Linked DNA regions of Homo sapiens. The protein of the gene in region 4 interacts with the protein of the main gene of each other region in a pairwise test. Each region holds a gene or a part of one and is shown on either strand. Other genes may lie near its edges. The genes, in order: TMEM134, TUBB4A, SPCS2 and CLN8.

Region 1 (8,008 bases), on a different chromosome or scaffold from region 4:
ACCATGTTGGCCTGGATGGTCTCGACCTCCTGACCTTGTGATCCACCCGCCTCAGCCTCCCACAGTTCTGGGATTACAGGCATGAGCCACTGCACCCGACCGGGTATCTGGAGATTTTTACCTCTCCAGTGCTAGGAAGGGGCTATGCCCATAAACTCAACAGGAAGCAGTTACAGAAGATGGATCTCTGCCCTTCCGCTGCCCTCTTAAGATTAAGAAGGAGTATCTAATCTCTGAGCGAGGAATGAGGTAGGTGGCAGGACTCAGCTCTGGAGGTGGGACACAGACACCAGACCAGATTGAGAACTAGCTAAAACAGGGAATGCTGCGCATGGTGGCTCATGCCTGTAATCCCAGCACTTTGGGAGGGTGAGGCAGGTGGATCACTTGAGGCCAGGAATTTGAGACCAGTTTGGCCAACATGGTAAAACACCATCTCTACTAAAAATACAAAACTTAGCTGGGTGTAGTGGCGGATGCCTGTAATCCCAGCTACTCCGGAGGCTGAGGCAGAGAATCGCTTGAACCCAGGAGGTGGAGGTTGCAGTGAGCCTAGATCGTGCCACTGCACTCCAGCCTGGACAACAGAGGGAGACTCCGTCTCAAAAAAATAAAACAGGGAAGAGGTGAAAGCACCTCTCCATAAGACCTAAGACCCGTAAGACCAGTGCATGTCAGTTTACCATTGCCATGGCAACACCTAGAAGTTACCACCCCCTTCGGTGGCAATGACCTGACGGCCCAGAAGTTACCACTCTTTCCCTAGAAATTTCTGGATAATTCACCCCTCAATTTGCATGTAATTAAAAGTGGGCATAAATATGGCTGCAGAACTGCCTCTGAGCAGCTGCTGGGGGCACACTGCCTGTGGGATGGCCCTGCTCCACAAGGAGCGACGCCTGTGCTGCTGCTGTGCGCTGCTGCTTCTGTAAAAGTTGCTTTCCAATAAGTAAAAAATAAGGCCAGGCACGGTGGCTCACGCCTGTAATCCCAGCACTTTGGGAGGCTGAAGTGGGCAGATCAACTGAGGTCAGAAGATGGAGACCAGCCTGGCCAAAATGGCGAAATCCTGTCTCTACTAAAAATACAAAAATTAGCTGGGCGTGGTGGCAGACGCCTGTAATCCAAGCCACTTGGGAGGCTGAGGCAGAAGAATCGCTTGAACCCAAGAGGCAGAGATTGCAGTGAGCCGAGATCACACCACTGCACTCCAGCCTGGGCGACAGAGCAAGGCTCAGTCTTAAAAAAATAAAAAATTTTAAAAAATGTTTAAGTTGCTGTCTAACACCACCAGCTCACCCTTGAATTCTTTCCCAGGTGAAGCCAAGCACTCTCTTGGGCTAAGCCCCAATTTTGGGGATCACCTGCCCTGCATCAGCCTTGCTACGCTGAGGCTGATCTTGAATTCCTGGCCTCAAGTGATCCTCCTGCCTCAGCTTCCCCAAAGTGCTGGGATTACAGACATGAGCCACTGCACCCAGCCTGAAAAGGAGTGATTATTCTTTGAGAGCATGTTAGACAAAGAGTCAAAGACAGACAGATAGGAAATATGTGCAAGGTCATAAACCAGCAAGGAATTAATGATTAGATATGTTGATATGCAAATTAGTGGAAAAAGGCTAGAAACCCAATAGCAAAAAGAAAGACCAAAGATATGAAAAGCCAGTTCACAGACAAGGGACACCCAATGGCTGACAAGGGCACAAAGAGCAGCTCAAACTCTCCAGCCATCAGAGAACCCAGAGGAACATGAGGTACCACTTTAAATTCATCAGATCGGCAAGCCATTAAAAAGTTGGATGGTACCAAGTCCTGAGAGAACCAGAAGCCTCAGGTGGAGTGTCAACTCTCACAGCCACTCAGGAGAGCATCTGTGGTACCCTGTGAAGTCATGAGTGCGTGTGCCCTATAACCTGGAAATCCTACCCCAAGGGGAATTCTCCCACAGTCCATAAGGGGACAGCAGGAAGATGTTAACTGCAGTGATGCCTGTGATGGCGGGGTTGAGGCCAGTTTGAGTGTACAACACTGTGGAGGTGAGGTGGATCATAAAGGTGCTAGACACTCAACATGGTACAACATGCATGTAGCCTGTAGAAACAATAAACAAATGCATATGGAAAACAGCATCGAGAGCAAAAATGTAAACGTGTAAGTAACAGAACTGAATTTTCTGCATGACATCATGTTTGTAAATTGCAAACACATCCACATAGGAGACAGTGCCATACATGGTACAGAGCCAGGCAGGCTTTAAGGACGCCGACTGAGCATGCTGACATGGGTCTGATGGAAGGCAGGGGAGAGGAAGGAACCTGGGAAGTGAAAGAGGGTAAGTGAATTAACATAACTCGAGAGGGGCCTTATTCATAGTGTTGATGTGTAACAAACAGAAGTAGACTTGACTCAGCTCTGTACATGAGGCCATAAAATGAACATGAGGCCGGGTGTGGTGGCTCATACCCAGCACCTTGGGAGGCCGAGGTGGGCAGATCACGCCTGTAATCCTAGCTACAGGGGAGGCTGAGGCAGGAGAATCGCTTGAACCCAGGGGGCGGAGGTTGCAGCAAGCCGAGATCTTGCCACTGCACTCCAGCCCGGGTGACGGTGCGAGACTCTGTCTCAAAAATAATAATAATAATAATAATAATAATAAGGCAGGGCACTGTGGCTCATGCCTGTAATCCCAGCCTCCTCGGGAGGCTGAGGCAGGAGAATCACTTGAACCCAGGAGGTGGAGGTTGCAGTGAGCTGAGATCGCACTCCAGCTTGGGCAACAGAGCGAGACCCTGTGTCGAAAAAAACAAAAACAAAAAAGAACTCTTGACTAAGGTCCATAAAGCTCTCAAGGCTCTGGGGCCCATCTACTCCTCCCAGGCTCATCAAGTCGGCCTGCCCCTTTCCTTGCTGCTCAGCCACACTGGTTTTCTCACATTCTTCCTCCACAGGCCAAGCTCCTTCCCACCTCCTGGCCTTTGAACGTGCTGTTCCCTGGTGCCAGGAAAACACTGAACCTTGCTTTTCTCACAGCTGGCTCCTTCATCATCGGCATTCCTGCTCAAATGTCACCTCTTGGAAAGGTCATCTTTGAGTACGAAATCTAAAGTCAGTTTTGCATCACACAGCACTTGAAACTGTCTCATTTTGCACTGTTTTATTCACCACTGTATCTATAGTGCCCAAAACAGTGTTTGGCCCTAAATAGATGCTTAATAAATACTTGTGGCAGAAATGAATGAGGGGTTTGCCAAAGTCCCAAGTACTTACAAGTGGTAGAATGGGGATTTGAAACCAGGTCCACCTAATTCATAGAGTACTTCTGCTCTTCCACCCCCACCGCCCCCCACCACGGTTCATTTTTTTTTTATGGAGTCTTGCTCTGTTGCCCAGGCTGGAGTGCAGTGGTGTGATCTCCACTCACTACAACCTCTGCCTCCAGGGTACAAGCGATTCTCCTGCCTCAGCCTCCCAAGTAGCTGGGATTACAGGCACTGGTCACCGTGCCCAGCTAATTTTTGTATTTTTAGTAGAGACTGGGTTTCACCATGTTGGCCAGGCTGGTCTCAAACTCCTGACCTCAAGTGATCCACTCTCCTTGGCCTCCCAAAGTGTGAGCCACCGTGCCCTGCCAAGAGTTCAGATTTTATTCTAAGTGCAATGGAAAACCAAGGGAAGGTTTTTTTGTTTGTTTTGTTTTGTTTTTTGAGACGGAGTCTTGCTCTGTCGCCCAGGCTGGAGTGCAGTGGCTCAATCTCGGCTCACTGCAACATCTGCCTCCCGGGTTCAAGCAATTCTTCTGCCTCAGCCTCCCAAGTAGCTGGGACTATAGGCATGCACTACCACGCCCGGCTAATTTTTGTATTTTTAGTAAAGACGGGGTTTCGCCTTTTGGCCAGGCTGGTCTTGAACTCCTGACCTCAAGTGATCCACCCGCCTCGGCCTCCCAAAGTGCTGGGATTACAGGAGTGAGCCACCGAGCCAGGCCAGCAGCAAAATTTTTAAAAAGGGTTTTCAGAATAACACACGCAGATAAAAAGATTTGTTTTAAAAGATCACTTCGGCTGCTGCGTGGAGACTGACTGGAAATTGGAAGACACATAAGCTCTCTGAGCCTCGGTTTCCACATTTGCAAAAATGGGGAGAGCACCCCTCCGGTGCGGGGCTGTTGTGAGTAAGGTGGGGAAACAGTTCCCAGGAGTCTCCTTGGCACTCGAGGAACAGGCTGCGGTGCAAAAGGCCCTGTCAGGGACCTGGAGGTTGGGGCGTGGAAGCCCCTCCAAGCCCCCGCACATACACGCCTGGGGGATGTGTCCGAGCCCGGCACGGGCTGTCGCTTGCCATGGCGGCCACTGAGTGGCGTCACGGGGCGGGCGCGCTCCGTCTGGAAGAGGCTCCCACCCATCAGCCCGCTCAGGGCTCGGCAACTCTGGCCTGCTTAGGGCGGACGGGGGCGGGACCGGCGCGTGGGGCGGAGCCAGGGTCGGAGGGGCGGGGCATGCGGGGGCGGGGCAGCGGCGACGCTGGGTGTGTGGGCGCAGATGGCGGCGGCGCACGGCGCCTGAGCGGGCCGGGGCCATGAGCGCCGCCCGGCCCCAGTTCAGCATTGATGATGCCTTCGAGCTGTCCCTGGAGGACGGGGGCCCTGGGCCCGAGTCCAGCGGGGTCGCGCGCTTTGGGCCGCTGCACTTCGAGCGTCGGGCCCGGTTCGAGGTGGCTGACGAGGACAAGCAGTCCCGGCTGCGCTACCAGGTGAACCGCCCGGCCCACCTAACCCCCTGCCCCCGGCCGGACGGGACCCCAGGCCGGGCCCCAAAGGCCTCAACTCGGGGAAGCATCTGCCTAGAGGCCCCAGCTGAAGCGCGAGACCGCCCCCCCGCCCCGCGGACGTGACTCTTGATCCAGAGCCCTGCCCAGGCCCTCCCGGTTCCCATACCGGGCCCCAGCCAGCCGGGAAGAGCCCAGTGCCCGGGCCCGGGAGCTCATCCCTCAGCTCCAGCTGGGGAACCCAACCGGATTCCCCACTCATCCTGGCTACTCGCACCTGGCCCCCGCTGGGTTGGGGGAGCTCCTCTGTATCTGAACCAGACCTTGCCCCACACGCAGGAGCATCCCCTGTGCCCCAGGCCAGCTAAGCTGATGGGAACCCGCACGCCTTTCTCTATTCTGAAAGCCCTCTCCCTAATCCCACCACCACCCCTAAGAGCTGGAGCTCCTCTCACATGACCAGTCCTTGCCCACCCTTTGGCTCCCACTAAACCAGAAAAACCCATTTTCCCAGAAAACCTCCACCAACCCTAGGCTGCTTTTCTTGGAGACCTGGACCAGAACCCTGTGCCTTGAACCTGGGAACTCTGGGCCTGGCCTTTCCTGGCACCCCAATTCCCAAGCTCCCATTCTAGGCCACTGAATGAGAGCTCCACCCTAACCCAAAGTTGGGAGCTCTCCTTTCCCTGGGATCTATGCAGGCTCCTGCTCCCCAAAGCCCTGGCATCCACCCACCTCCTACCTGGTTTCTGTGAATCACCAAACCCGTTCTGCGGGGAGGGCAGAGGGCCAGGTGAACAGCTGCCAGGCGGCCAGGCAAATGGTTGTGTAGGCCTGCTTTTCTCTTCCCGGGAGGGAGTGAGGAAGGGCCCCAGCCCAGCAACCCCCCTGAGACCTGTGTTCTGCAACAGAACCTGGAGAACGATGAGGATGGAGCCCAGGCCTCTCCGGAGCCGGATGGGGGAGTCGGCACCAGGTTAGGGCCAGGTGGGGACCCAACCCTGTACCCCAGCCCCAGCTCCTATCCCCAGGGACCCTGCTCAGTCACCCACCCCACTTCACTCACTCTCTTCCATCCCGTCCTATTGATTCCTAGCCTGACCCTCACTTTCCTCACAGGGTCTCCTACACTGTAGGGTCACCCTACCCTAGTGCCCAGCTGTACTCACCTCTTTCAGAAACCCCCAGTCTGGTCTGGCCCCCACCTTCATACAGGTCACCTGTCCTACAGAATCCCCTAGCTCATCCCCAGCCCCTGAATTCATGCTCACCCACCGAGGCCTCTCAGGGCCCACTATCCTGCAAGGGGCCAGCCCCAGTCCCTGCACCATGCCCTGCACTTCATCAGGACTCCTGTCCCAAAGCAACCCCGTCCTTGCCTCCCTGCCCCTCACTGGGCGCCTGTCCTGGCAGGGATTCCAGCCGAACTTCCATCCGCAGCTCCCAGTGGTCCTTCAGCACCATCAGCAGCAGCACCCAGCGCTCCTACAACACCTGCTGCAGGTGAGCCTGCCCGCCTAAGCCCCCAGCCGAGCAGCCCTGGCTCCACCCCCACAGCCTCCTGCACCCCCTCCCTCCACCTCCTTCACATTCACCCTGCTCTCCTGCCACCCAGCTGGACCCAACACCCTTTGATCCAGAAGAACCGCCGAGTGGTGCTGGCCTCCTTCCTGCTCCTGCTGCTGGGGCTGGGTGAGTGGCCCTGAGGGTTGGGGTCAAGAGGGGCCCCGTGGGAGGCTCTGCCCTCCTTTTGTACAGGCTCTGCCTCCCCCTTGACACTGAGCCTCCCAGCATCCTGAGGAGGCAGCTGGCTGCCATCATCACACTCCCATTTTACAGGTGAGGAGACAGAGGCCTTGTGACCTGGGCACACAGCCAGGAAATCACACATAGCTGAAAATGGAACCTGGCTTATCACTGCAAAGACTTTTCCTTTTTTAAAAAATTTAACCTGTTTAAATCCATTAGAGGACAGAAGAGTAGCAGCTACCATTTATTCTGTGTCTACTCTGGGCAAGGTGCAGGGCAGTTTTATTTTCCCATCTTACAGAAGTCCTACAAGTGAGGTGGTGCCCAGAAGCCACGTGTAGGGGCTCAGGGATGCCGAGTGCCCAGCCAGTGCAGAGCCGCAGGGCACCTGGCACTTCCCCTTGTCTGGCATCTAAGCACTGACAAGCACCCCTCTCCTACCCATTGCTCAGATGGGGGAACTTTTGGTCCAGAGCAGGCAGATCTCACACCAGGTGTTCTTTGGCTCCCAGGCACCTCGTTCTTTGGGGTAGAGGAGGCAGAGTCCCCAGAAAGGATCCAGGGTTGGGGTCACGAGTGATCCATAAGAAGGGACTAACTGTGGCTGCTACCCTGGCTCATCTCTCCGCTTCTCCAGGAAGGCCAAGGCTCCCCAGCCAGCCAGGCCCCTGGCACAGAGTCTGGCCTCTGCTCAGGGTGTTTGAGTGTGGGGGAGGGGGCTGCCACTTCCCAGCACCGCTGTACACTGGCCCTGGTAGTGCTGCCAAGTTCTTTCATTTTTCCCCTCAACCCAGCAAGGCAAGCCTGGGGCTACCAGAGCGCCTTAGAGGGCCTTTGTAGGGTGCAGGGAGTGAGTTTCAGCCCCCATCATACCCTATACCCCTTTATTTTTATTTATTTATTTTTTGAGGAGGAGTCTTGCTCTGTCGCCCAGGCAGGAGTGTAGTGGCGCAATCTCGGCTCACTGCAACCTCTGCCTCCTGGGTTCAAGGGATTTTCATGCCTTAGCCTCCAGAGTAGCTGGGATTACAGGCGCGCGCCACCACACCTGGCTAATTTTTTGTATTTTTTTAGTAGAGATGGGGTTTCACCATGTTGGCCTCAGGTGATCCACCCACCTCAGCTTCCCAAAGTGTTGGGATTACAGGCGTGAGCCACCACGCCCAGCCCTTTTTATTTTTTAGAGACAGGGTCTTGTTCTGTTGCCCAAGCTGGAGAGCTGTGGTATGATCACTGCAGCCTCAAACTCTTGGACTCAAGCCATCCTCCCAGCTGAGCCTCCCTAGTAGCTGGGACTACAGGCATGTACCACCATGCTCAGCTAATTTTTTTTTTTTTAAAATAATAATAGAGACAAGGTCTCACTATGTTGCCCAGGCTGGTCTTGAACTCCTGAACTCAAGTGATCCTCCTGCCTCAGCCTCCCAAAGTGCTAGGATTACAGCCATGAGTCACCACGCCTGGGCTGGGCTAATTTTTTTTTAACCTTTTATAG
Region 2 (6,468 bases), on a different chromosome or scaffold from region 4:
GCTTGAACGGCAGAGGTTGTGGTGAGCCAAGATCATGACACTGCACCCCAGCGTGGGCAACAAGAGTGAAACTTCGTCTCCAAAAAAAAAAAAAAATTGTGAAGCTTAAAGTCATGAATATGTGTAGAGTTTAGAACAATGCCTGACACAGAGAAAGAGGTAAATAAGCATTTGTCGTTGTTTTCATTACTATCTGCAGTCTAGAATGTGAGTAGGATTTGGACTGGCCAAAGGGCATGGAAGGGAGGAAAGATGTTTAAGACGGAGGCAACAGCATATGTGAAGATAGTGGGGTGTCCACACCCTGGGACAATCCTTCCGGGAAAGCTTTCCTGGCTCCAGCTGGCTGCATGTCCCCACCCTGGCTCCACCCGCCTCCAATACTCCCAGCATGTAAGACGTGCTAAATGCAGGACCTGTCCTGCCTCTCTGAATCTTTTCCGCAACTCGCCTCTTACTTCCATTTTACAGGTGAGAAAACAGAGGCACAGAGACGTTAGGTCACTTGCAGAAAGTCACACTGCAAGCCACTGGGGCTGTCAGGAGCCAGAGGAGAGGGTCTGACTACTAGGTCCACGCTTTTTTTTTTTTTTGAGACGGAGTCTCCGTTGCCCAGGCTGGAGTGCAGTGACGCAACCTCCACCTCCCAGATTCAAGCGATTCTCCTGCCTCACGAGTAGCTGGGACTACAGGCATGCATCACCACACCTAGCTAATTTTTTGTATTTTTAATAGTGACGGGGTTTCGCCATGTTGGCCAGGCTGGTCTCCTATTCCTGACCTCTCAGGTGATCTGCCTGCCTCTGCTTCCCAAAGTGCTGGGATTACAGGCATGAGCAACCGCGCCTGGTCTGAGCCCACACTTTTAATGCTCCTCCCACCCCCTGGCCACCCAGAGGCCATAGAATCTCTTGGCCCAACTGTAAGCCCTCTGGTCCTCCTGAAATCACTCACACCATTTGGCCAATCTCATTTCATCTTGATTTCACCCAGCCATTTCCCAAGGACCTATGATGGGCCACGGCCACAAAACTGCATCATTATGTTTTGAAATCTTCCAACAGATCAGAAAGGGGAAGTCACTTGTCCAAGGTCACACAGTTTGTCTTGTCAGTCCCGAGAATCTGCAGTCTAAACCACCAGGCTCGGGAGGAGGAGGGAGGGGGTGACCAGAGGTGGCTTCTCTGAGGATGTGGCATTGAGCTGAGACCTGAAGGAAGTGAGGAAAAAGTCAGGTGAATACCTGGGGGGAAAGCATTCTAAGCAGCCAAGCCACTAGTGCAAAGGCCCCAGGGCAGGACCACACCTGGAAAGCTGGAGTAACAGCTGCGGCTGAAGCAGAGTGAGGGAGGGGATGGGGCAGGTCCGGCAGGGCCTTGTGGCCTGCAGGGAGGATTTGGGCTTTGACCCCAAGGTAGGTGGGAGCCATGGAGGGCTGTAGGCAGAGGAGGGACGGGACCTGACTTACTTGCTCTCAGGTGTCCTCTCGTGGGTACTGTGGAGAGGACAGACTGGGTGATAAGGGTAGGAGCCAGGGGACCAGGACAGAGGGAATTGAACTTATCCAGGAGGGTGATGCTGGAGCTGAACTAAGGTGGAGACAGATGAGGGGTGAAAGAAAACGTTAGCTGTTCACAGTAATACCGGCCAATATTCTTTTTTTTATTCCATTTTTTTTTTTTTTGAGACAAAGTCTCACTCTGTCGCCCAGGCTGGAGTGCAGTGGCGCGATCTCGGCTCACTGCAAGCTCCACCTCCTGGGTTCACGCCATTCTCCTGCCTCAGCCTCCCGAGTAGCTGAGACTACAGGCACCCACCACCACATCCAGCTAATTTTTTCTATTTTTAGTAGAGACGGGGTTTCACCGTGTTAGCCGGGATAGTCTTGATCTCCTGACCTCGCTATCCGCCCGCCTCGGCCTCCCAAAGTGCTGGGTTTACAAGCGTGAGCCACCACGCCTGGCCAATATTCTTCTTTTTTTTTTTTTTTTTTTTTGAGACGGAGTCTTGCTGTCGCCCAGGCTGGAGTGCAGTGGCACGATCTCGGCTCACTGCAGGCTCAGCCTCCCGAGTAGCTGGGACTACAGGCGCCCGCCACCTCGCCCGGCTAATTTTTTGTATTTTCAGTAGAGACAGGGTTTCACTGTGTTAGCCAGGATGGTCTCGATCTCCTAACCTCGCAATCTGCCCGCCTCGGCCTCCCTAAGTGCTGGATTACAGGCATGAGCCACTGCGCCTGGCCAATATTCTAATACTGATTCTTTTCCTCCGGGAGCTTGCATTCCACAGTGAGCTTGCAGACAATAAACATGATTAACAAGAAAACACAGGCCAAGCATGGTGGCTCACGCCTGTAATCCCAGCACTTTAGGAGGCCATGGCAGGTGGATTGCTCCAGCTCAGGAGTTCAAGAACAGCCTGGGCAACATGTCGAAACCCCACCTCTACAAAAAAAAGATACAAAAATTAGCCAGATCTGGTAGCATAAGCCTGTAGTCCCAGCTACTCAAAAGGCTGGGGCAGGAGGATCACTTGAACCTGGGAAGTCAAGGCTGCAGTGAGCCATGATTGCACCTCTGTACTCCAGCCTGGGCAACATACCAAGACCCTGCCTGAAAATGATATTATTATTAATAATGATGTTAAATATTAATCTTTTTATTGTTATTATTTATTTGTTTTAGAGACAGGGTCTTGCTCTGTCTCCCAGGCTGCAATGGTGTGATCATAGCTCACTGCAGCCTCCAACTCCTGGGCTCAAGCAATCTCCCACCTGAGCCCCCCTAGTAACTGGTACTACAGGTGTGCCACCACCATGACTGGCTAATTTATATATATATATATATATATATATATATATATATATATATTTTTTTTTTTTTTTTTTTTTTTTTTTTTTTGTAGAGACATGGCCTCACTAGGTTGCCCAGGCTAGTCTTGAACTGCTGGGCTCAAGCAATCCTCCCACCTCTGCCTCCCAAAGTGTTAGGATTACAGGCATGAGCCACTGTGCCCAGTCTTGGTTTTTTTTTAGGCAGGGGGCGGGGGAGTGTTTTGTGTGTATGTGTGTTTTTGAGATGGAGTCTCACTCCGTCACCCAGGCTGGAATGCAGTGGCTCAATCTTGGCTACCTGCAGCCTCCTCCTCCCAGGTTCAAGCAATTCTCTTGCCTCAGCCTCCCGAGTAGCCAGGGACTACGATCGCTCACCAGCACACCTGGCTATAATTGTTATTATTTATTATTATTATTATTATTATTATTTTGAGACGGAGTCTCGCTCTGTTGCCCAGGCTGCAGTGCAGTGGCACAATGTCGGCTCACTGCAAGTTCCGCCTCCTGGGTTCACGCCATTCTCCTGCCTCAGCCTCCCGAGTAGCTAGGACTACAGGCGCCCGCCACCACTCCCGGCTAATTTTTTTTGTAATTTTAGTAGAGACGGGGTTTCACCGTGTTAGCCAGGATGGTCTCGATCTCCTGACCTCGTGATCCGCCCACCTCGGCCTCCCAAAGTGCTGGGATTACAGGTGTGAGCCACCGCACCCGGCTATTTGTTATTATTTTTGATAGTTACTAGTATTCAACTACTAGAGGCCCTCCAGGTGGTGGAGAGACAGAGTCAAGGGTTGGGGCTCCCCATAACTGCATGTGTGTCCCCTCCCCTTCCCTCTCTAGGCCAATCCGGAGCCGGCAACAACTGGGCAAAGGGGCACTACACGGAGGGCGCAGAGCTGGTGGACGCTGTCCTGGACGTAGTCCGGAAGGAGGCCGAGAGCTGCGACTGCCTTCAGGGCTTCCAGCTGACCCACTCGCTGGGGGGTGGCACGGGGTCCGGAATGGGCACGCTGCTCATCAGTAAGATCCGCGAGGAGTTCCCAGACCGCATCATGAACACCTTCAGCGTGGTGCCCTCGCCCAAAGTGTCAGACACGGTGGTGGAGCCCTACAACGCCACGCTGTCTGTGCACCAGCTGGTGGAGAATACGGATGAGACCTACTGCATCGACAACGAGGCACTCTACGACATCTGTTTCCGCACCCTCAAGCTGACCACCCCCACCTACGGGGACCTCAACCACCTGGTGTCGGCCACCATGAGCGGGGTCACCACCTGCCTGCGCTTCCCGGGCCAGCTGAACGCCGACCTGCGCAAGCTGGCCGTCAACATGGTTCCCTTTCCTCGCCTGCACTTCTTCATGCCCGGCTTCGCACCCCTGACCAGCCGGGGCAGCCAGCAGTACCGGGCCCTGACGGTGCCCGAGCTCACCCAGCAGATGTTCGATGCCAAGAACATGATGGCGGCGTGCGACCCGCGCCACGGCCGCTACCTGACCGTGGCCGCCGTGTTCCGGGGCCGCATGTCCATGAAGGAGGTGGACGAGCAGATGCTGAGCGTGCAGAGCAAGAACAGCAGCTACTTCGTGGAGTGGATCCCCAACAACGTGAAGACGGCCGTGTGCGACATCCCGCCCCGCGGCCTGAAGATGGCCGCGACCTTCATCGGCAACAGCACGGCCATCCAGGAGCTGTTCAAGCGCATCTCCGAGCAGTTCACGGCCATGTTCCGGCGCAAGGCCTTCTTGCACTGGTACACGGGCGAGGGCATGGACGAGATGGAGTTCACCGAGGCCGAGAGCAACATGAATGACCTGGTATCTGAGTACCAGCAGTACCAGGACGCCACGGCCGAGGAGGGCGAGTTCGAGGAGGAGGCGGAGGAGGAGGTGGCCTAGGCTGCTCCCATCGCTTCCCACCTGTCCCCTCGAGGCTTCTGACCTTTGATCCGCTAGGCCCCCCATCTCTGAACCCTAGAGCCCCGCTTTCCCTCCAAGGCTGACTCCCCGCTGACCCTAACAATACCTTTGGAGCTCGCTTTACCTCTGGCTACTTCATCTCCGACCCTGGCTCCCCTTTGAGCCCTAATTTATCTTTAACCCCCTTGAGCTCTTCCAACCTTGACATTCCCAGGAGGAGCCCCGCTTCACCCCTTCTGACTCTGGAAACCGCACCTTTAACTTTGCAGACCTTCCTTCACCCCTGACTTCTGCTTCACCTTTGACCTCTGCCCCCCATGAATCCCATTTTACCTCTAGACCTATAAGTTCTGGTTTATGTTTGACCCCTCCCTCTGAGCTGCACTTCACCGCTGACCTTGCCTCACCTTTAACCCCCCACCTGAGCCCCAGCTCCTACCTCTGACCCCAACTTCTCTTTGATCTCTGAATCCCCTCTGACTCCAACTTCTCTTTCACCCTCTATGAGTCCCATTTTACTTCTACACCTGCAAGTCCTGGTTTATATTGGACCCCTCCCTCCGAGCTGCAGTTCACCTTTGACCTTGCCTCACCTTTCACCCCCCACCCCCCACAGCGTCAGCTCCTACCTCTGACCCCAGCTTCTCTCTGATTCCCACAGGCCCCATGCATCCTCCCTGCCTCACTCCCCTCAGCCCCTGCCGACCTTAGCTTATCTGGGAGAGAAACAAGGCCTGGTGCCTGTGAGGAAGAGAGGTCACCCCTACCCTCCCTCCCCGCTTCCCTGCCTCACCCTCAATAAATAAATTAATTGTTGTCATGGATGTTTCTGCCGAATCCCTCTTTCCTCTCTTACAGCAAGTGCGGGCTTTTCTCTACAGGATGGAGGAGGGTACCGATGACATCTCATCTCTGGATGGGGGGCGTGCTGGGGAGGGATCAGACGGGCCAGGCTAGGCCACCCACTAACCCTGAGGTTTTGACTAAGCCATTTGCCTTCTCTCAGCCTCGGTCTTCCCACCTGTAAAATGGGATCGTATGTTTTCCCCCAGGATCCCCCCACAACTGTTATAGGAATGGGGTCCCAATCCAGACCCCAAGAGAGGGTTCTTGGATCTCAAGAAAGAATTCAGGGCAAGTCCATAAAGTAAAAGCACGTTTATTAAGAAAGTAAAGGGGTAGGGCACGGTGGCTCACACCTGTAATCCCAACATTGGGAGGCTGAGGCAGGTGGATCACCTGAGGCCAGGAGAGACCAGCCTGGTCAACATGGCGAAATCCCATCTCTACTAAAAATAAAAAAATTCGCAGGGCGTGGTGGTGGGCGCCTGTAGTCCCAGGTACTCCGGAGGCTGAGGCAGGAGAATCGCTTGAACCTGGGAGGCAGAGGTTGCAGTGAGCCAAGATAACGCCACTGCACACCAGCCTGGCAACAGAGTGACACTCCGTCTCAAAAAATAATAATAATTAAATAAATAAATAAAGGAGCCAGGTGCAGTGGCTCATGCCTGTAATCCCAACACTTTGGGAGTCTGAGGTGGGTGGATCACCTGAGGCCAGGAGAGACCAGCCTGACCAACATGGTGAAACCCCAACTCTACTAAAAATGCAAAAATTACCTGGGCGTGGTGGCAGGCGCCTATAGTTCCGGCTACTTGGGAGGCTGAGGCAGGAGAATCACTTGAACCTGGGAGGCAGAGGTTGCAGTCAGCTGAG
Region 3 (8,233 bases), on a different chromosome or scaffold from region 4:
TAGATGGATGGATGGGGACAAATTTATATTCAGTCAATATGTCTTTCAGGAACTCTCTCTCATGACCAATCACACACATCTGCTAGAGGTAAATGAAAGAATGAATGAGTAACTTGCTGGCTGGAAAATGTTAGATGTGATGTAATTTGCTGGCTGGAAAATGTTAAATATGATGGCTGTTGGAGAAGCCTTCAGTAACTTACAGAATATGGTGACCTGGCTTCAGGTCTCCAGAGTACTTACTTGATCTTTGACTTTGGGAATGGCCCCTTAACTTCCTTTTTTTTTTGTTTCTTCACTTGTTTCTTTGCCTGTAAGATAAATATTATATTCCTTCTTAGCCTGCTATTCAGAGCTCTTGAACTTCCTCATTAATTATATTCTACTGTGAGCCTTCCACTCCAATATTTGTCTTGCCTTTAGTCCTTGCCCGTAGGACTAAGGATCCAAGAAACAGATAGATACCAATACAGAGATGGAGACAAAGACAAGACATAGATGGGAAGGTGGTATAGGAGAATATAATTATGATAGTGGGGTATGGCTGGAGTGCTTAAATCAGACACACGAAGCACAAACCTGAAAGGACGGGATCGTTTACATGATTATTTACACAAAATAAATTTCTGCCAGATAAAAATAGGAAAGTCAAAGTTGAAAGATAAGACACAGTCTGGGAAAAGATATTTGCCATGCATATAATACAAAAGATGACTCACACTGAAGCCTGTAGGAGGCATGCAGACCTGGATGCTATCGCAGAAATTCTAGTTCCCTATTAGGAATATTAGGTGAGAAGGTGTAGATCTACAACTAATGGGCCAAGAAGGGCACATAACCCCTGGTTACATTATCTAAGACAAGTAAGATCTTTATATGGTAGAAAAAAAAGTCAAAGTTCCAGATTTGGAGGCTGACTTCCTGGTTAGCTTTAGTTACCTCTGGTCTCCATCTCAAACTTGATGCAGCTAATGCCAATCTGACTGTAGCGCTTCCTCCAAAACAAACATCTCTCTTTCTCTCTCTCTCACACACACACACACAGAGTAAGGCATATTTTTGCTTGTTCCATTCCTTTGGCCTATCACATTTCTGCCCCTCTTCCTTGCCCGGCTACATACAGATTAGCTTTCCTGTATCTCCCTCTCCTTAGGCTGAGCCTCCTCAAGCCCACTTCTTTTTTTATTTATTTTTTCTTTTTTTCTTGAGACAAGGTCTCACTCTGTTACCCAGGCTGGAGTGCAGTGGCATGATCTCAGCTCACTGCAACCTCCACCTCCCAGACTCAAGCAATCCTCCCACCTTAGCCTCCCAAGTAGCTGGACCACAGACGTGTGCTACCATGCCCAGCTAAATTTCTATATTTTTGATAGAGATGGGTTTTCACCATGTTGCCCAGGCTGCCTCAAACTCCCAACTCAGCCTCTCAAAGTGTTGGGATTACAGGCGTGAACCCCCTTGCCCAGCCATCAGGCCCACTTCTTAATGGAGGCACTAACATGGTTAGGCTTTGTGTCCCCACCCAAATCTCATCTTGAATTGTAATCCCCATAATCCCCATGTGTTGAGAGAGAGACCTAGTAGGAAGTGATTGGATCAAGGAGGTGGTCCCCCATGCTGTCCTCACCATAGTGAGTGAGCTCTCACGAGATCTGATGGTTTTATAACTGACAGTTCCTCCTTCACACTCTTGCCCTCTCTTGCCTGTTGCCATGTAAGACTTGCCTCTTCCCTTTCCGCCATGATTGTAAATTTCCTGAGGCCTCCCCAGCCATGCAGAACCGTGAGTCAATTAAACCTCTTTCCTTTATAAATTACCCAGTCTTGAGCAGTTCTTTATAGCAGTGTGAAAATGGACTAATACAGGCACTATACCACACTGTATTATAATGCCTGCTTCCTTGTTTGTTCCCCACCTCACTACAGGCTGTGAGTATCTCCAAGGTCAGGTCAGGCCTGGGTCCTACTTACCTCTTTTTCTTTTTTTTTTTTTTTGAGACGGAGTCTTGCTCTGTCACCCAGGCTGGAGTGCAGTGTCGCTATCTCAGCTCACTGCAAGCTCCGCCTCCCGGGCTCACGCCATTCTCCTGCCTCAGCCTCCCTAGAAGCTGGGACTACAGGCGCCCGCCACCATGCCTGGGTAATTTTTTGTATTTTTAGTAGAGACGGGGTTTCAACATGTTAGCCATGATGGTCTTGATCTCCTGACCTCGTGATCCGCCCGCCTCGGCCTCCCAAAGTGCTGGGATTACAGGCGTGAGCCTGTACTTATCTCTTTATCCTGCATCTCACACAGGACCTGGCCTACTGAAGGAAGAGTCTCAATGATTGTTAATTGAACTAACCCAACCCATGAACAAAATGCCACAGGAGCACTTCATGCAGTGGGTGAAGAAAGAAGAAGCAAGTATCAGAAATAGTTTCACAGGGTAGGTGACATTAAAGCTGGATCTTGAAAGATGAGAAGTTGGCCTGGTGTGGTGGTTCATGCCTGTAATCCCAGCACTTTGGGAGGCCGAAGCAGACGGATCACTTGAGGTCATGAGTTCAAGACTAGGCTGTCCAACACGGCGAAATCCTGTCTCTACTAAAAATATAAAAATTAGCCAGGTGTGGTGGCATGTGCCTGTAGTCCCAGCTACAAAGACTACAGCTTGGGAGGCTGAGGCACAAGAACTGCTTGAACCCAGGAGGCAGAGGTTGCAGTGAGCCAAGATCCCACCACTGCACTCCAGCCTGGGTGACAGAGTGAGACTCTGTCTCAAAAAATAAAAAATAAAATAAAAAGTGACTAGGGCAATGCTGTATCATCTCACTTTATTTTAAATAAAAGAAAAATGAGAAGTTGTAAAAGATAAACTGCAACAACAAGCTACAGGGGATCTGACTAGTGTCCACGGATTGCTTCACAGAGGTAATGAAATATCATCTGATGTTATTGCTATTTAGTGATATTTATTTTCTTTTTAGTAATAATTTAGTTATTTAGTGATAATTATTTTCTTTTCTTTCTGATCTCGGCTCACTGCAACCTCCGCCTCCCCGGTTCAAGCAATTCTCCTGCCTCAGCCTCCCAAGTAGCTGGGATTACAGGTGCCCGCTACCACGCCCGGCTCATTTTTGTATTTTTAGTAGAGACGGGGTTTCACCATGTTGGCCAGGCTGGTCTTTAACTCCTGACCTCAGGTGATCCGCCTGCCTTGGCGGGGATTACAACCATGAGCCCCCACGCCCGGCCGAGATAATTATTTTCACATGAATTTTGGCTTCCCCAAGACAAGTTTTTGTCTGTTTTATTCAGGGATATATCCCTGGTGACTAGAATAGTGCCTGTTACATAGTAAGAAACTCAAAAATATTTGTTTAATTCTTTAGACGCTTATGGGGGATATATAGGAATTAAAAAACAATACAACGTAATAGAGCATGGTATAATACAATACTGCTATTTGATAACTCTGTCATGGAGTAGTAGTTCCACCAGAGTAGCAACCAGGTCTATCTTGATCCCCTGTATCCGTTAGTACAATATTGGTGCTCAATATACATTTGTGAAAAAAATTAATTAAAATACAACGTAATAGAGCATGGTATAATACAATACTGCTATTTGATAACTCTGTCATGGAGTAGTAGTCCACCAGAGTAGCAACCAGGTCTATCTTGATCCCCTGTATCCGTTAGTACAATATTGGTGCTCAATATACATTTGTGAAAAAAATAATTAAAATCTAGAATACTATTACATCCTAAAACCGTAAAAGCAGAGTGTCAGAAGGGATATATATTGGTTTTGATTTTTTTTAAATGCCGGCTTGAAAACCGAGTTCAGATACATGCTATCTGGCTTTGGGTAGGTTCTTTAGTTTCCTCCTCATCTAACAGGGCTGTTGTGGGACTCAGTGAGAGAGAGGATGGCTGGAAGTGCACATAGGATACTGCCTGGCAGACTGTAGGCACTCAGTAAACGCGAGTTCTCCGTTAACACGAAAACATTACAAACAGCTAAAATGACAGCTGCTTGAGAGAATAATCGGTAAGTGCCACAACCGGGCTAGAAAAGGATGAAGGACAAGCTCCTGCCCACTCCTTTGGAAACTCCACACCTGGGCCGGAGAAAGACTCGAATTCGAAAACTAAGTTTCAGTCGCACCTGCCTCCGGCGTCGCTTCAGCCTCCGAGGGGTCTGCGGAGGCGACGTCCCAGTCAGGAGGGATGCGCGCCTGCGAGCCCCCCGGGGATCTCGGAGCCGCTCCACTGCGGTGCCTGCCGCTATCTTCCCCACGCCTTAGTAACTGCGACGCGACGGCAGACAGTGTAGGCGGCAACCGACGGCCGGGACGTCTAACCTCAAGTCCCAGCAAGCCCCGCGGCCACGTCCTCTGACTACCTCGCGCCAGCAAGACCCAAACTACGGATCCCGATTGACTCCGCGCGGCGCGTCACGCTGTCAGCTCCAGCCAATCGGCTTCAGACAAGTCGGAGGGGAGGGAGACGCAGAGGCGGACAAGATGGCGGCGGCAGCTGTACAGGGCGGGAGAAGCGGTGGTAGCGGAGGCTGTAGTGGGGCTGGTGGTGCTTCCAACTGCGGGACAGGAAGTGGCCGTAGCGGCTTGTTGGATAAGGTGAGGAGCCGGTTCTTGGGAACAGTTGAATCCTGGGGAGGCCTGGGAGGCGGCGAGCCAACCTTCCCATCCCGGTCTCCCTTATTTTCTACGGCCTTTTGAGGGGAGCCCTTGTGTGACCACTATCACAACCCTACGCACGCTTGGAGCCTGCCCTTGCCCTCATCACACTTCAAACCTGGACCCGGTCCTCTTTAGAACTTCTTCTTTTCTCGCAAGTGTTCTGGTCCTGGTCGCCACACCTTTTTCGGTAATTTGATTTTTCCTATATTTAATCGTGTCCATCTCTTTTCTCCTGGGGGGCTGGGTGCACTGTTGTCAGTGCCCATTTCACAGACACGGAAAACCGAAGCCCAAAGATTAAAGAATCAGTATCCCCCAAACTCTCTACCACCATCACCCTTGCGTGCTGCTACAGATTCCAAAGTGCTTCTTGTCCTTTTGCTTACTGAAGTTTTTAGGCGTTTTATCATGATAGGCGAATACTGAAAATATTTGAGTATTGACTGTTCTACTGGGCTGACAAGAAGCCTTTAAGATTTTTCTTTTTTTCCTGTTGTTTTTCCCCGCCCTCTCCTCTCTTCCCTCCACCTCCCTCTTTGCTACCAAGTGCACTGCTGCCCGCTCACGCTTGCCCCTTTCCTCCCTCTGCTCATCCAAAAAAATTTTTTTTAACTGCAGTCCTAGCAACAAGGGTTTAAAAGAAAAGAAAAAAAGGAAAACTGTCCCTGGGTTGGCCTTTCTTGCTCTTTGCACAGCATCTTGGAAGAAACAGTTGCACGGAGAACAACGTCCTGGTGTTGATTTTGCCTCTAATTAGCTTTGTGACCTTGAAATATGCTTGCTCTCTCTATATCTGTTTTCTCATCTGCAAAGTGAGAGATTTAGCCTTAAAATGAGGGACTTAACTCTAAATTCCCTTCCAGTTCTCTCATTGTAGGGCCCTGGGCTGGTTTGATGAGAATTGTTAAGCATGGTGTCTTTAATATAGTAAGCAGAATTTTTGAATATAATTGAAAACAGCTTTCAGACTTCCCTGTGCATAACACATGGTAGGTGCTTAAGAAATGAAAACATGATTATGTTGAGGGGTTAAGATCCAGGTCTTTTTACTTGTCTTTTTGAGTGTCATTGGTTTTGAAAGACATGGTTCTCACACTCTTCTCTTGTGAGAGGGGTCACGCTCCATTGCCCAGAATGGATCTTAGCTCACTGCGGCCTTGAACTCTTAAGCTTAGGTGATCTTCCCACCCCAGCTTCCTGAGTAGCTGGGACTGCAAATGTGCACCACTATGCCTGACTAATTTTTTTGCTTTTAACTTTTCTGTAGAGTCAGGGTCTTACTGTGTTGCCCTGGCTGGTCTCAAATTCCTGGGCCTCAAGAGATCCTCCCACCTTGGCTCCCCAAAGTGCTGGGATTACAGGCATAAGTCACCATGCACCTGGCCTCACACTCAAACCTTAAGATACAGAAACATATTCTGGAGGTTGGGATGGTAAATTGCTTCAAGACATGTGAGAGTATGGGGAATTGATGGTCATTTGTGTACACAAATCCTTCCCTCTTGCTAGGTAAGCACCTCATAGCCTGTGCTTACCTGCCCCACTAACTGCTCTTGCTCTTCCTTGCACTTGGATCATCATCAGCAAACATTAAGTATGGGCATTCTGCTAAGGCAGTATAGAATACTATTATTATGGAATAGTGTATATGGCACCATTGTGTTATTGAAAGAACCCGGATGTGGGGATCATAAGATTTCAGCTTTGAAGTATTTCTGCTACTTGCTAACAGTATGAAGATTGGCAAGTCACTTAACCTTTCTTCATTTGGAATTTTGGAATCTCTGGCACCTAGATCACAGGGTTTTGGGAAGAACCAAGTAAGACAGTACACATTAATGATCTCCATTACCTGTAGTGTCCAGTACAGATGTGTGATGGTGGAGGAGTAAATCAAGAATCCTACTGTCAGAGAGCACTCAGAATAGCCAAATATAGGAGATGGGGTAATTGAATCTATTTAAGGAAGTATATGGTATATTCGCTCAAGTGTGTACTTGTTACGGAAGTTCAAATGAGAGAAATAGAGTGAACCCTGCGAGCTTATTGATAAGAGTAAGAGCCTCGGCCGGGCGCAGTGGCTCACACCTGTAAACCCAGCACTTTGAGAGGCCAAGGCAGGCGGATCACCTGAGGTCGGAAGTTCAAGACCAGCCAGACCAAGATGGAGAAACCCCATCTCTACTAAAAATACAAAATTAGCGAAGTGTGGTGGTGCATGCCTGTAATCCCACCTACTCGGGAGGCTGAGGCAGGAGAATCGCTTGAACCCGGGAGGTGGAGGTTGCAGTGAGCCGAGATCACGCCATTGCAGTCCAGCCTGGGCAACAAGAGGGAAACTCTGTCTCAAAAAAAAAAAAAAAAAAAGAGTAAGAGCCTGAAGGAAAGGCCTCATTCCTGAAAGTGGAACTGGCACCTTATTTGGGGGGAGAAAAGAAAGACATGCCAGGTAAAAAAGTCTCCTTGAGTAAAGTTACACAGATGTGATGGTGTTTTATGTTTCTCAGGTATTGAGTTGACTAGAAGGCTCTCTAAAGGAACTGTAGTGACAAGTAGATAGCATCTGATTAGGGAGGCCGTGGATTGCTTGAAGTAGAGGAAAGCTGTTGAAGGGTTTTGAGACTGTGTAAAGTGGTTTTTAGGAAAACTATTCAGATGGTTTGGAGAGACAGAAATTAGAAGACTTCTTAATAAGGCCGTATACACAGTAGTGTATAATATATAATAAAAAGAGACAAATTTGAGTTCTAGTGCCGCATGTTATTAGGTTGGTGCAAAAGTAATTGCTGTTTTTGCCATTGAAAGTAATGGCAAAAACCACGATAACTTTTGCACCTACCTAATAAAAGCCACATGACCTTGGATAAGTTGTGTGATATTACTGAATTTAAATTTCCTTATGTAAATATTGTGGACATTCATACATATTATAGGCTTGTTGTAAGGATCAAATTGTATAGTGCTGGTAAATGTTCTTTGGGTTTTTTAGTTTGGTTTCCTCTGCCCTTTTTATTTTATTTTTATTTTTATTTTTGGTAGAGACAAGGTCTCACTGTGTTGCCCAGACTAATCGTGAACTCCTGGCCTCAAGTGATCTGCCCACCTCAGCCTCCCAAAGTACTGGAATTACAGGCATGAGCCACCGCACCCAGCTCTGTTCCCTGTCCTTTGGAATCTACTAGAAGTAAATGTTCTTTGTAAAGGGCTGTCTGTGGTAAAAAATAGAATGACAAGGTGATGAGAACCCCAACATGAGTAGCAGAAATAGATAAAAGGTCTCACAAAAGAGTGCTTGGAAGATTTAACCAATAAGTGAGGGACAGAAGAGAATAGTCAAGAGCTGCTTGAGTGCCTTTTCTTGGAAAACTTAGTTTCAGCCTTACATTGAACTGTTCCCTCCCTGAATTCCTCTAGCACTTACACTGCACATGGGAATTAAGCTGTCACTTAATATGACATACTGTCTTGTATTATTTCACCAATTTGTATTTGCCCGTTTTCCTGTGAGTGCTTCTCTGTAGTGATCAACACAAGATAAGTACTTT
Region 4 (7,977 bases):
ATGTGCAAACTTCAAAATAAAATCTCGCTGAGTCTGTCCTCCTGGAGGCTGGGCTCCACCACCACACCAGGGGAGGGAGAACTGCTGGAGACGCTGTCCCCACACCTGGCTCCAGGAGAAGCACAGATAAAACCCTGGAGAAATCCAACACTGCTTTCCCCTGAGGACTGGAGAGACAGAAAGACTCACGTCTTTCTTGTTGTTTTTAAAGAACTTGTAATAAAAATAAAATACAAGATAACTATTAATCTATTTCTCAAAATACACTAATGACCTCAAGCACACCATCTTGTGGGATGTATTAATAATTTAGTCACTATTTACCACTTGGGACATTGATGTGGTATTGATGTTTAGGGCATCGATGTGAGTGAGCGCCTCTGCTTTCCTTTCAAGAACTTTATTTTCTGCCACAGCCGAGTGACTCCTGAAGTCCGGTGTTTCCAGGTGAGAGGAGTAGGCAATGCGGAGCACAGGCCAAGGCCTCTTCCTCCAGCACACACCTCTCCACTCCACACTGATCTCACTCCAGAGAAACCCAGGGAAGTCACAGCCCTGACCTGCATCCCAGAAGTCTGCACTCTTATGGAAATAACGCCCACAAAGAGAAAACTGGAAAACTGCAAGCTGCGTACAGGATGCTGATGGGGTCCCAGGTCACAGCATCGTTCCCAAAATGACCCACACTTAGACCAGCAGCTTCATATTCAGTCATTTGCTCGCCAAGGGAACTCAGTAGCCAGGTCACCGGAGGGGCTCTTTCAAACTATTCATGGTTCCAACCCTTCTTCCTTGGTAAGTTCTACCCAAATCACACCGGCCCCCAACCTCCTCCTGCCACCGCCCAAACCACGCACTCACCAGGATGTCTCCAGTATCGCCTGCCATAGGCTCCATCTACTTCCATGGCCACCCTGTGAGGCTCTGTACTGGCGACGACTGTGCCTCACTCACCCTCATTCACTTGCCTTAACTCCGAGGTGCTCACCTGCTCCTCCTGCAGAGGGTCCGCATCTGGGGCCATGGTTTCTCTGCACTTTCCTGTCACTGTGCTCACACACCCCATCTGGTGCCAGATGGGGCCAACCTCAGGGGACACCAGGAACACAAGTTCCTCCTTGAGTTCCCAGGTGCCAGCACAGTATCTGACACCCGGCTGGTGTCCATGGTGGTTATGCATGAACAGTCTGTACTGTTTACACTGCAGTGCACTTTTGATGGACTGATATCATCTACCCACCTCGACCCCGAAGGCAGGAGTGATTTGTTATGCTTATTTTTCCTCTCGAGGCTACCAGTCTCCTGTAGACAAGAAATGTGCAGTAACATGACCCATTTGTGTGAATGGCTGAACATTTGCAGGATCTCAAATTTCATATCAAATATCCCATAAACAATGTGATGGGTCATAAAAGATAGCAAGAATCTATGTAAAAACAATTTTAAGGCTGTGCACGGTGGCTCATGCCTGTAATCCCAGCATTTTGGGAGGCCAAGGCGGGGAGATCACCTGAGGTCAGGAGTTCAAGACCAGCCTGGCCAACACAGTGAAACTCCGTCTCTACTAAAAATACACACACACACACACACACACACACAAATTAGCTAGGCGTGGTGGTGGGCGCTGTAATCCCAGCTACTTGGGAGGCTGAGGCAAGAGAATTGCTTGAATCCGGGTGGCGGAGGTTGCAGTGAGCCAAGATCATGCCACTGCACTCCAGCCTGGGCAACAGAGCAAGATTCCGTCTCAAAAGGAAAAAAAGTTTAAAGAGTTTAACATGAAGAACATTTTGACATCAATATGACAATCAAGTGACAAATATTTTTAAAACATGTTCTTCAAAAACAGAAAGAAAGTGCTAGGCAAATAACTATGCTAGGTCCCAACACTTCTGAGCACTAGTACAACAACCTTATTCAAAAATAAAAAGCAAGCAAGGTATGTGTGTACGCACAGATATTACTTCAGTTTTTCTAAAGTATTAAAAGAGGCCAGGCACGGTGGCTCACATTTGTAATTCCAGCACTTTGGGAGGCCCAGGCAGGCGGACCACAAGGTCAGGAGTTCAAGACCAGCCTGACCAACATAGTGAAACCCCATCTCTACTAAAAAGACAAAAAAGGTAGCCAGGTGTGGTGGTGCGCACCTGTAGTCCTAGCTACTAGGGAGGCTGACGCAGGAGAATCACTTGAACCCAGGAGGCGGAGGTTGCAGTGAGCCGAAACCATGCCATTGTACTCCAGCCTGGGCGACAGAGTGAGGCTCCGTCTCAAAAAATAAATAAATAAATAAATATAGTATTAAAAGAAAGGAAAAAATTAAGTGCTTCCAGACGCTATCTACTGAGCCATAAAATCTACTGAGCTTTCTTTCCTTAAGGAAGAGAAAGCCTAAAAGACTTAAAATTAAGAAAATTGCCTCCAGCCTGGACGAGAGCCAGAATCCGTCTCAAAATAAATAAATAAATAAACAAAACCAGAATATTGCATTCAACTAAAATGAGTTTGTAACTGAATGTGTGTGCTGCAATCCAGCCTGCTGTTGAGTTTATGGCAGCGTCCAGGACATTGTAGCCAGTGATTAAATGCGTGAGGCACATGTCATCTTCTGCTGATGCATGCACTTACCTTTAAGAGCATCCAGGAAACGCAGGTAAAGGGCGTGCTCATCTCCAGGAGCAACGTGGTCATAGCTAGATAGTGGCCAGCTTGGAGATTGACCAAGCAGCCAAGAAACCCAAGAAAGGCAAAGAGATGGTGGATAACCAGAAACAAGTCAAATGTCCGGAAGATCAAGTTGGACAGGTGGACTGCAACATTTTCAAAGCAAAAGAATCCCGTTGCTGTCGTGATGTGAAACCAGCACCAGTTCTGCTGGCCACGCGCCTTGTCGGCATGCAGCACAGGGTCCCCCAGCAGAGCCCACAGGCCTGCGGCTGTGCTCTGAACACCAAAGACTGCACGCGTGGCCGCCAGGTCCCAGAAGACCTTCTCTCTGGCCACCAAAGAACGGTAAGTGGCATTCAGGGAAGAGGACAGCTGGTGGCAGACCACAAAGACGCCCAAGTAGAAGACAAAGCCAGCGACCATCAGCGTGGAGCGGATCCCCCAGGATGCATAGTCCAGGTCAAAAATGCTCTCTGATGTGCCCCCATCGCTCGCAGGATTCATTGTCCACAGCTATATTCCAAAGGAGTCCTGGGGCCAACACGGGCCGGGCCCTACACTGTGTCTTGTCTAAGGAAATGAAGTCAGTGCAGCGGTCCCTGGGATTGTCACGTATCCATCTTCAATCTAAAAGAAAGATCATTCATTTTGTGTTGACTCGATAGAAACAAGGACACATCACTACCCCAGTAACGCAAACATTAAACTACAAAATATTTAATTCTGTACCTTATTCTTAATGAACTTACAAGGGTGCATAAACATACCAAGGTAACATCCACTGACAGTATAGGAGGAAAGAAAATGAAACTAAAGCTAGAGCGGTCCAGCCACGAACAGGAGGCCGGAGCCGTGCTGGCAGGAACACACGGTCCTATGCTCGTCCTATGTGCACCCCACCAGCAAGTCTCCCGCCTTCACAGCAGTCCCAATCAGTCACACAATTCAGGCATCGCAGGATGAAACATATTTAAGTCATTACACTGGGATACACTTTGTTACAGCACTGAACTTCTGCTGTTTGATCCTAGTTAACACCCCAAGGATGTCACGAAAACCTGTGCTCCTGTTCTTCATGTTATTCCTTGGTTAAGGCCATGGAATGCCTTCTCAACAGCAGCAGGGAAGGCCTGAACTCCTCACTGTGACCTACGGCACTCTGCAGAATGTGATTATCAATTATACCTTCTCTGGTTCCACTCTCACCATCCCCTGCATCTCACTCCATGCTATAACCTTCCAGTCCTTTGAAAACATCACACTCTCCTGCACCTCTGGGTCTCTGCAGCTGCTGGGCCCTCTCCTGGAAAAGTCTTTACCTTCCCCAAGTTGGCATCATCTTACCTGTCAGGTCCTCACTTAAAGGCCATTTGCTCCAGATGCCCTCCCAGAGTAGGGGAGACCCATGGACTGGGTTAAGTACCTTTGCTACAAGCTCCTGATGCATACCCCAAACACTCATTTTTGGTGTTTGGGGTGTTAACTAGGATCAAACAGCAGAAGTTCAGTGCTGTAACAAAGTGTATCCCAGTGTAATGACTTAAATATGTTTCATCCTGCGATGCCTGAATTGTGTGACTGATTGGGACTGCTGTGAAGGCGGGAGACTTGCTGGTGGGGTGCACATAGGACAAGTGCTTACTGAATCCTCACCTCCACTGGACAGCAAGCTCTGTGAGGGCACAGACCACACCTGCCTTCCATCACAGCATCTCCTCTGCCTGATGCAGCACTGGGTCCACAGTGGGCCCTCAAGAAACATTTATGGAACACATGAACAGATGCTGAATCATGCTGAAAGGGTCCACTTTACCTAAGCCTGAACCTGTCTGCAAAGCTACAAACACCAGAGTCTCAAGTTCTTGAAAAACTGGAAGGGACGTGTGATTGATTCCAGCCTTTCCTTTTACACGGCAGGAAACCCAGGCACACAACGATGACATAGGAACGGCTACCGACAAAGACTCAGGTCCCCGCCTGGTCCCCCCTCACCCAGTGTGCAGGGACTTGTCCAGGTAATGGAATTTCTGCAGGGAGTGGGGACTCTTGTCACTCACACCCAGCGAACAGACAGCAGGGCTGGGAACACCACACTCCCCACGCAGCTGGACCCTCTGCTCTCCGGAAGAGACCCCAGAATTGACTCAATTGTGAGACAGCAGGACTAGAGCCAGAAGCATAGGAGGAGCCATTCACTGTGGCCATTCAGCAAAAACTTGCCAATCATTATTCAGGCAAAAAGGTCGCTGTGACCACACCCCAAGGACATGGAAAACACTAGCTCACACAAGCATGCAAAGAATGTGAGTCCTGGGACCTGATGCAAATGACAAGGGAGCACTGATCACTCCTAACCTCTTGCTTTGATAATGGTCTATAATCAAAGGCAAAATAGTACAAGAGTTTGTCTGTTTCTCCATTAACACTCCAGCTTTAACACAGACTAGCTCTGTTTGAACACAAATCTGATGTGGGGAAAGACAGCACTGGTACTCATGTTTCTCCCTAGAGAAACGGCTCCCGTGTCATGCTGCCCCTGGTGCGTGAGTTCAGGGCACACAGGCGTGCTCTCTGATAGATGCTATGGATGACAACTGAGGGGCTGCCATGCCCATGTGTGCCCTCGTGACCCACACTTCTGGTCATGCTATATATCAAGACTCCAGTGTACTTACACATCTCCAAACACATTTCTGTTAACCTGTTGACAAATCAGGTTGAACATGGTATTAAGGGGCTGGCAAGAGCACTCGGCTCTGGTATTCAGTGTGCAGCAAGGCATCGTTGAACCCCTATGCACTTCACAGGAGCAGATCAACTTCAAGTGCAGCCTAATGCCTGGAGGGGAGACCGCTTACCAGCATTAAAGAAAAGCAGGCTGGGTGGAAAGGACAGGTATCAGGCAAGGAATAGCATCCATTACAAGGGTTAACGTGAACAACACTGTTAAAGGTTAAAATATGGACCCCTCGTAAAACTTCTCCCTGTACTTTTCCACGAGTAGGTCATCAGCTCTGACTTATAGGTCCCATTTTGCCACAGTTGCATCAATGTCCGCTTGGCCAAGACCACTAACTTCTGTAGGACCTCTGCCTTGAGACGAGAGAAACCCCGACTCCAGAAGGCTCTGCCCAGATCAATGACTCAAATCCACCTCAGTGGAAGTGGTGAGCCCAAGTGATGCTTCAGGAGGTCTTTGGTTTGGTCAAGGTGAGAGGGACTCCAGGACATGAGAACCAAAAACCAAGAAGAGCGGCTGGCTTAGTGGGCTCTGATCTTGATTTCACTATTTAGGAGCTAAGAAACCAAGTTTCAGGCTGGGTGTGGTGGCTCACACCTGTAATCCCAGCACTTTGGGAAGCCAAGGTGGGTGAATCACTTGAGGTCAGGAGTTCAAGACCAACCTGGCCAACACGGCAAAACCCTGCCTCTACTAAAAATACAAAAATCAGCCAGGCGTGGTGGTGCGCACCTGTAATTTGAGCTACTCAGGAGGCTGAGGCAGGAGAATTTCTGGAACCCAGGAGGGTGGAGGTTGCAGTGAGCCGAGATCACACAACTGCACTTCAACCTGGGCAACAGAGCAAAACTCCATCTCAAAAAAAAAAAGAAAGAAAGAAAACAAGTTTCTTTCCTAACCACCCTGGACCCCAGAATCTGACTACAGGAAAAAGAAATACACAGAGCAGGCCGAGTGCAGTGGCGCACGCCTGTAATCCCAGCACTTTGGGATGCCAAGGCAGGTGCATCACAAGGTCAGAAGTTCGAGACCAGCCTGGCCAACATGGTCAAACCTCGACTCTATTAGAGATACAAAAAATTAGCTGGGCGTGGTGGTACATGCCTGTGATCCCAGCTACTTGGGAGGCTGAGGCAGGAGAATCGCTTGAACCCGGGAGGTGGAGGTGGCAGTGAGCTGAGATTGCGCCACTGCACTCCAGCCTGGGTGACAAGATGAGACCCCGTCTCAAAAAAAAAAAAAAAAAAAAAAAAGAAAGAAACATACAGAGCAGCGGGAAATGAAGCACCTACTACAAGCCAGATGTTCAACTAGTTTGTGTGATCTTCACCATAAGAGCAAATAGCTACCAGGTCTTCAAGCTTTCTAGATATCTTTTTGGAGAGATTACCATATCTACAGAAAAGTGGCAGATAGGTGAAAGACATGGAAACAGAAACAGGTAAGCCACAGCTGAGTGGGCAAACCCTCCTGGCAGTCAGAGAACAGGTGCCAATTAGGGATGCAGAAACAGCAGATTATAAAGACCAGAATGCTTACTTCCCCTTCCAGTCCTGTAGTGAATCCCCCATTCTGATTCTTTGCTCAAACCTCCTGACTTTCTGGGTAAGCTGGTGCTGTTCTAGTCTAACTCGTTACTGTGGGTCTCTGAGTTTAGTTAATGCCAACCAGCATCCTCCAGCCAGGAGTTCACAAAGGAGGTGAACTCCTCAGCTCTCTCAGCCATGAGGGTAGAAGGCCAGTCCCAGAGGCAGGATCCAGCCCAAGCGCCCAGTCTTCCTGGAGTCCTGCAGAGCTCTGCTGTCCTTTCGTGGCATCAGCGTTGTACTGAGAACAGCTGTGGTTCACCCCAAGTCACAAGGTGGGCACCCACAGAAGTGTGGCTAGGCCTTGTTCTGTCAGGCAGCACAGAAGGGGTATGGGAAGAGCTCAGCTTCTCCTTTTGCTTCTATTTCTGCTCCTTGACCCAACCACACCCTCTCACTCTTGATACGCAAAATGGGACACAGGGGTTCCCACTGTTCCCTTGCTGTGCACCATAAGGCTCAGGCCACATGAAGGAGTCCTTAAGTGTAATGCACAGCTGGAAGTCACTGTTCCTTCCATGGGTAAAACTGGAGGCCGAATCGGCCGGGCAGGGTGGCTCACACCTGTAATCCCAGCACTTTGGGAGCCCAAGGTGGGAGGATCACGAGGTCAGGAGATCGAGACCATCCTGGCTAACATGGTGAAACCTTGTCTCTACTAAAATACAAAAAAAAAATAGCCAGGCGTGATGGCGAGCGCCTGTAGTCCCAGCTACTCGGGAGGCTGAGGCAGGAGAATGGCGGGAACCTGGAAGGCGGAACGTGCAGTGAGCTGAGATAGCGCCACTGCACTCCAGCCTGGGTGACAGAGTGAGGCTCCGTCTCAAAAAAAAAAAAAAAAACAAAAAACTGGAGGCCGAACCTAATGGACTCATCTGGTTCTTTCATTCTGGAAGGCTTCCAAGCCCTTCCACACCAGCCCCTTTCCTCTCTGCAGTAGAGGAAGTGGAGCCGGAGAATAAACAACTCCTGGAAGGCCACCAT

What was found.
Region 1: the proteins of CLN8 (region 4) and TMEM134 interact in a two-hybrid assay, tested with the Homo sapiens proteins (one study listed by BioGRID).
Region 2: the proteins of CLN8 (region 4) and TUBB4A interact in a two-hybrid assay, tested with the Homo sapiens proteins (one study listed by BioGRID).
Region 3: the proteins of CLN8 (region 4) and SPCS2 interact in a two-hybrid assay, tested with the Homo sapiens proteins (one study listed by BioGRID).

The regions. Positions count from the first base shown.
Region 1 is NC_000011.10:67,465,760-67,473,767, reverse strand, and holds the start of TMEM134 (transmembrane protein 134), read left to right. Parts: upstream 1-4,516; 5' UTR 4,517-4,575; coding exon 4,576-4,749; intron 4,750-5,675; coding exon 5,676-5,740; exon of another isoform or gene 5,741-5,751; intron 5,752-6,177; coding exon 6,178-6,267; intron 6,268-6,379; coding exon 6,380-6,456; intron 6,457-6,603; coding exon of another isoform or gene 6,604-6,626; exon of another isoform or gene 6,627-8,008.
Region 2 is NC_000019.10:6,493,427-6,499,894, reverse strand, and holds the end of TUBB4A (tubulin beta-4A chain), read left to right. Parts: intron 1-3,673; coding exon 3,674-4,731; 3' UTR 4,732-5,576; downstream 5,577-6,468. UniProt on the Homo sapiens protein: Tubulin is the major constituent of microtubules, a cylinder consisting of laterally associated linear protofilaments composed of alpha- and beta-tubulin heterodimers.
Region 3 is NC_000011.10:74,944,775-74,953,007, forward strand, and holds the start of SPCS2 (signal peptidase complex subunit 2), read left to right. Parts: upstream 1-4,491; 5' UTR 4,492-4,511; coding exon 4,512-4,625; intron 4,626-8,233. UniProt on the Homo sapiens protein: Component of the signal peptidase complex (SPC) which catalyzes the cleavage of N-terminal signal sequences from nascent proteins as they are translocated into the lumen of the endoplasmic reticulum.
Region 4 is NC_000008.11:1,766,249-1,774,225, reverse strand, and holds part of CLN8 (protein CLN8), read right to left. Parts: intron 3,295-7,977; 5' UTR 3,172-3,294; coding exon 2,629-3,171; intron 1,303-2,628; coding exon of another isoform or gene 1,054-1,302; exon of another isoform or gene 1-1,053. UniProt on the Homo sapiens protein: Could play a role in cell proliferation during neuronal differentiation and in protection against cell death.